2 separate regions of the Homo sapiens genome follow, and region 2 is linked to region 1. Evidence: fine-mapped expression QTL. A gene starts in region 1. The other region holds a variant in brackets. All regions are shown on one strand. Distances are from middle to middle. Region 1 holds the start of PCDHAC2 (protocadherin alpha subfamily C, 2). Region 2 has its middle 23 kb from the start of PCDHB1.

Region 1 (2,913 bases):
CTCCCGGTCCGACGTGTAGCTGCTCAAGGAGTACCTGAGCTCACCATTGGAGCCCTCATCCGGGTCTGAGGCATTCAGCTTCACCACCAATGTGCCTGGGGGTGAGTCCTCCCGTAGCTGGACGCGATAAGTGGACTGGTCAAAGGCAGGAGAGTTGTCGTTAGTGTCCAGGACACGCACAGAGATCTGTGCCGTACCCGAGCGGGCTGGGATGCCCCCATCCACGGCTGTGAGAACCAGGTGGTGCAAGGCTGCCTGCTCCCGGTCTAGGCCCTTACGCAGCACCAGCTCAAGCACTTTACTGTTCTCCTGCAGGGGCTTAAGGTCCAGCTCGAAGTGCTCGCTGGGGCTGAGCTCGTAGGTCTGTACTGAGTTGGCGCCCACGTCGGGGTCCTGCGCACTCTCTATGTGAAAGCGCGCTCCAGGCGCCACCGATTCGCTTACCTGAAGCTGGTAGTTGGGCCGCGGGAAACGCGGTGAGTTGTCGTTGATGTCCAATATTTCCACCTCAACGGCGCTCACCGCCACGGGGTTGTGCGCCAGCACTTCCAAGCTGAGCAGGCAGCGAGGCCGCTGCTCACACAGCGCCTCCCGATCAATGCGCTCGTTGACGAAGAGCGCTCCACTCGTCAGGTCCAGCTCCAGGTAGCGCGGACTGGGCGCACCCAGATGGTTGATGCGCAAGCAACCCGGCCCCAAGCGCCGCAGCTCAAGCCCCAGCGCGCGAGCCACGTTGCCCACGAGCGCGCCGGGTGCCTGCTCCTCTGGCACAGAGTATCGCAGCTGGGAGGCCGCAGGGCCAGGTAGCAGCAGCAGCAACAGCAGCAGGAGAGGCAGTAGCAGCAGCCAGGGCATGGGCCGCCGGAGCCGTGGATGCTCTGTCGCCGCAGGTCTGGTGCCCGCCTGCTCCATAGCCACTGGCCGCGGCGGAGGCAGCCGGGCAGGGCCGGAGGCGGCAGCTTCCCCAGCCGTGCCCCACGCCCGGGCCCCGCCTCCGCTCGTGCCACCCTGCGCCTGCTCCCCCACCGCTCACGCTCTAGAAAGCGCCTGGGGCCGCTCCCTCCGTAGGCCCTCCCAAGGGCTCCTGGCCCCACCGTCCTCGCTGACTCCCCATATTCCAGCTCCTCCGCTCGCCTCCGAGTCGCTCAACCCGGCTCGGCTTCCTGCTGCTGCTGCCGCTACAGCTCCAGGGGGAGGGAAAAGGAAACAGAAGGGAAGACAGAGGGGGAGGGGGAAAGGGAGCGGTAGGAGGGCTCAGCAAGTCCTGCTCTGATTCCGCGCCGAAGTGGCGGACAGCGAACCCGGACTGCTCAGCCTCTCCAGCCCCATCTCCTTCACCCTGGACCTGCCGGATCCCAGCGGACCGCAGGAACACGGCCACTCCCTTTCTCCCTACCCCCACTGTCCAGTTCATCCAGTCTCCACCGTCTCTCCCCTGCTTAACGGGTCTTTAAGGAGATTAGTCTGGGAAAAGCAGTCAAGCCCCTAGAAGTCTGGCTATCAGCTCCCCAGGAAAAGATCTCCAAGCGCAATTCAGGAAAATAAACTGAGGGGCCTTAGCTAAGTATGGGCACCCAGGCGGCGGATCTAACATTAAAAGGAAACAACGCAGGGGGAGGCGCTCTGGGGTTACTGGCGATGGGAACTATTCACCTGACTCCCACATCTTCCCTGGACACTCTTAAGTACTGCAGAAAGTGCTCAACTCCTAGGGCAAAAGGAGGGGGATGGCAAATGCTGCCCTCTTTCCGGGAGCAAGCCTAAAACCAGCATCCTGGGATCCAAGACTCAATTCTGCTCTCGGCCAAGTGGCCCTTATTTTCAGTGTGTGCCTTGGCAAATAACCAATATTTAAATGTTTAAAATGCTCTGTTTAAAAAAATAGTCTCCATGAAGCTGTAGGCAAATCTATTATTTGACCCATTTTGGCGACAATGGGGAAAATCTGGTAAAATTTTTAAAGAGATTCTTCTCTCAAGCTTTTTCTAATCTTGCTTCAAATCTTTTACATTTATCACCCAAGACATTTTCTTTCAAGAGTAATTTAAAATTTTTTCTTTAATGGATGACAATGTCTTCAAGAGTCTGCAAAACCATTAAATCAAGAGCGTTACTGTTGATCTCCTAAGCCAGGCTGGAATTTGGATTCCATTAATGCTTTGCAGTTAAAAAAAAAAAAAAATCTGCTGTCATTAAGCAAAATGTGGGAGTCTGGGATTTATCTTACAATAACCAGCAATTTCAATGACTGCAGCTTATCTTCCTTAAATATAAGACTCCTTAGACTTCTGTTCTTCTGTGTCCCCAAGTTTCCTCTTGTACTGCTATAGAGGCAACACAGAGACAACAAATTCACTTCAGTAAAAGAGAAGGTAGAAGGATCAGAGGAAATCTTTCCATGCTGTGTCATTGCCTCTGCTGCTCAGTTCTGAATATTCACTCTTCCCAGGTTCTCACATTTCTTCCACAGGAATTTGAAATCTATTGCCTCATGTGCAAAAAAAGCACTCACTAAAACGTCCTTTCTCTTCATCTCCCAGTATTCTGTCATCTGTAGATCTTCCTCTATGGGTCATTTTCTAGCTATGGACTGGAACAAAGTCAGAGTGAGACCTGACATTTGGCATGCTTCCCTCCTAGAGCGGACAGTTAAAGGAGCCAAGGTTGTGATCCTGACACCCAGAATTCAAAGGCCTGAACTAGCACATCCCTTCGTTCCACCAACCAAGCACACTCACTATCAATGCTCCACTACCTAGCCAGTGTTATTCCAGAGAAGCGCCCAGCCTCCTATCACTGCTGCTTCTTATTTGTCCTCTTTGTTTCCTCAAGGGTACAGAGTAGGAAGCAATTTTCATCAAAATCTATTCCTGTCTCCTTTCTTGGGTCTCTGGCTTCTTCCTCTTCTCTCTG
Region 2 (2,913 bases), 62 kb before region 1:
TTATTTAGCAGTGATGTGTCATGTCTAAAACATACTTTGAAATGATACACCAAAAATTACACAGAGAGGAAGGAAGAGAGTGAAGGACAGAAAGGGAGACAGGGAAGGAAAGGTTAAGGGAGAGAGAAAGAGAGAAGTAAATGTGGCCAATGTTAAATGGTGAATCTTGATGAAAGGAGTATAGAGGTTTATTTTACTATTCTGTTGACTTTTCTATAGGTTTGAACTTTTTAAAATAAATAAAATTGAGCATTGCAATGATCTTTTCAGGCCAAGTACTAATTTCTAAAATGAAGAATAGTGGTTTCAAATGAAGTCATTTGAACCTACAGCCAAGTAGCTATGAGTACTAATTGTTTAAATATAATTATCTTAAAACTTGGGCCGGTTGCAGTGGCTCACCCCTGTAATCCCAGCAATTTAGGAGGCTCAGGCAGGTGGATCACTTGAGGCCAGGAGTTCAAGACCAGCTTGGCCAACATGGTGAAACCTCATCTCTACTAAAAATACGAAAATAAGCCGGACATGGTGGCGTGCACCCGTAATCCCAGCTACCTGGGAGGCTGAGGCATAAGAATCACTTGAACCCGAGAGGTAGAAGTTGCAGTAAGCCAAGATCACACCACTGCACTCCAGCCTGGGCAACAGAGCAAGACTCTGTCTCAAAAATATAATATAATATAATATAATATAATATAATATAATATAATATAACATAATATAATATAATATAATGTAATAATTTTTAAACTATAAAACAGAAATTAGAGGAGAAATTGGAGATAGTCAGTATAGGGAACACTTTCAAGGAATTTTTTGTATAAAGAAGAGAGAAATGTGCAGTAGCTGGAAGGAAAAACGAGGTCAATAAATAGTTACTTTAAGATGTGAGAAATAACAACATGCTTGTATGGTGATGGGAAAGATCCAGTAGGAAAGAGAAAATTGATAATACAGTGGTGGTAGAAAGCAATGTCCTTGAGTACATGACACAGGGAGTTCATCTAGTAGTCACAGAACATAACATACAGTACAAGAGAACAAAGGCAGGTCAGTAGGTCAATGAGATAAGACTTATGGGCAGCTCCTCTGATCACTTCATTTATCAAATTTATTTGAAGTTAGATGCTCTACTGATGGAGGAGTGGGAGGAGTGCTGAAAGTTGGAAAGACATCAGAATGTAGGAATTGGTCAAGGTAGGATGGATGCAGACGAGAGAGTAAATGGGCTAGGAAAATACTATATAATTGCCAGACAACGTTAAGGGCCACTTGAGATTTGTAATCACAAATATAAAATAAGAACAGCTAGCAATATTGTGATGTTTTTCTCCTGCTACATTAACATATGTGAATACAAGCCTGATGTGGGCAAAGTTTTAGGTTTACAAGTCTTTGAATTTATAAATCTAGTTTTTGATTTATGAAGCTTCGGATTTTTATAAGCAAGTATATTAAAGTGAGGGAGGATCATGGATTTTAAGGTATATAAAATGCAGTGATTATAATGATTGACCCCAGACTTTTCACTGGATAAAAAGAATTAGGACATGAAGGTGGTAGGGATGA[C/T]GAAAAGATGGTAGGACTAATAGATTTTATGTATTGGAATGGTTGGCATTATTTTCGGGTCTTAGAGGGAGTAAGCTGGGAAAATTGTAGGGGGCAATTAGAAAGTTTGATGCTTGAAATTGATACTTAGAAATTAGGAAAGTGTTGCAGTCACTGATAACATAAAGATATTTGACCTTAGATGGGAGTAGGTAGCTGAGGTCAGTAGAGCACTGGGTAATTCAAGGAGAGAAGGTCAAGGAATGGAGAAGGTAGGCTGTTAGAAGAAACATCTATGTGGATATTGAAATCACCAAGTATTATGTTTAGAATAGTACTAGAGAAGATATTGAGCCAGCAGGTAAAATCATCAAGAAATGACAGTGAGTGACATGGGATCAGGAGATGACTGCTACAAGGAGAGGTAGTGGGTGTTAAAATTTGACCGCATGAGATTCTAAGCTGAATGTTGTTAGGCAGAAGGGAGATAGGGAGATCTGGAAGTGGCAAGGTGGGGGGCAAGGTAGGGTGATACAGAAGTGGCAAGTGGTAGGATGATCTGGAAGGAGCAGGGAAGATAATTTCTTACTTCTAGGCCCAGTGGGATTAAAGGCTAAGGAAAAATCACAGCTACATTTTGAGAAGAATAATGGAAATAATCTCCTTAGGGAGAACCAGTGTTCGGTTTAAACAAAGACAGCAAATTTTCAGAAAAGAGGCTGCAAACATAGGGAATTTTGCTAATGACTGACCACAGGGCATAATACAAAGGCTTCAGGAGTTAAGGAAAGATAGAAATAGCGTAAAAAAAATCTACAGAACAACATGGGATTTACTCTCTGAGTGAAAGGAGATGGTCGGGGAGTTCTGAACTTTTGGAAACTGGCATAAACCACGACCTTAATGTTGATGGTCACATAGTGATGGTAAGGCTATAAGTTGGGGGTGAAGGATTTGGATCGTGTCACAAATATACTGAATTCTGGGGCTCTCGCTTAGCTAAAACTGATGTTTTCCTTTAAGCCCAGGGCCACATAGAGACTGTGTTTGACCTGTGCCAATGCAGATATGGAGACCAGAGACAAGGGCATTTGCTGTCTGGTGTGTTTCTTTCCATCTGTCCTGGATATTATCCATAAATGGAGGAATCAAGTTTCTGGCTTTGTACGCTTTTTGAAAACAAATCCATTCCTGAAGCCCTTGCTTCTCAGATGATCAGAATATTGGGATGATAGTTGTGCTGCTGATGCTGCTAGCTCTCACATGGGGCAGTGGCCTGAGAAAACCAAAGGGCGATAAGCATGACTAAAATTTAGCTCTGAGCTGAAGAATATTCATGTTTTCCTGTGGCTAGGATGGGTACTC

What was found. PIP is the estimated chance that this variant, and not a neighbour inherited with it, causes the effect. A credible set is the group of variants that fine-mapping cannot tell apart.
Region 2: its variant is the best candidate, but not a certain one, in a credible set for the expression of PCDHAC2 in lung (TOPMed, PIP 0.65).

What each region holds. Positions count from the first base shown.
Region 1 is chr5:140,964,766-140,967,678 of GRCh38, reverse strand. It overlaps PCDHAC2 (protocadherin alpha subfamily C, 2), which reads right to left and starts at 1,203. Exons shown (of 4, transcript NM_018899.6): 1 at 1-1,203. The coding sequence starts at 912. All of the region lies in intron 1 of PCDHA1 (protocadherin alpha 1), which reads right to left. The region is part of intron 1 of PCDHA2 (protocadherin alpha 2); the gene reads right to left. The region is part of intron 1 of PCDHA3 (protocadherin alpha 3); the gene reads right to left. It also overlaps PCDHA4, PCDHA5, PCDHA6, PCDHA7, PCDHA8 and PCDHA9, and 6 more genes.
Region 2 is chr5:141,027,245-141,030,157 of GRCh38, reverse strand. No RefSeq gene overlaps it. Among named protein-coding and RNA genes, the nearest start is that of PCDHB1, 23 kb to the left of the region's middle. The variant C/T (reference allele first, on the strand shown) is at 1,570.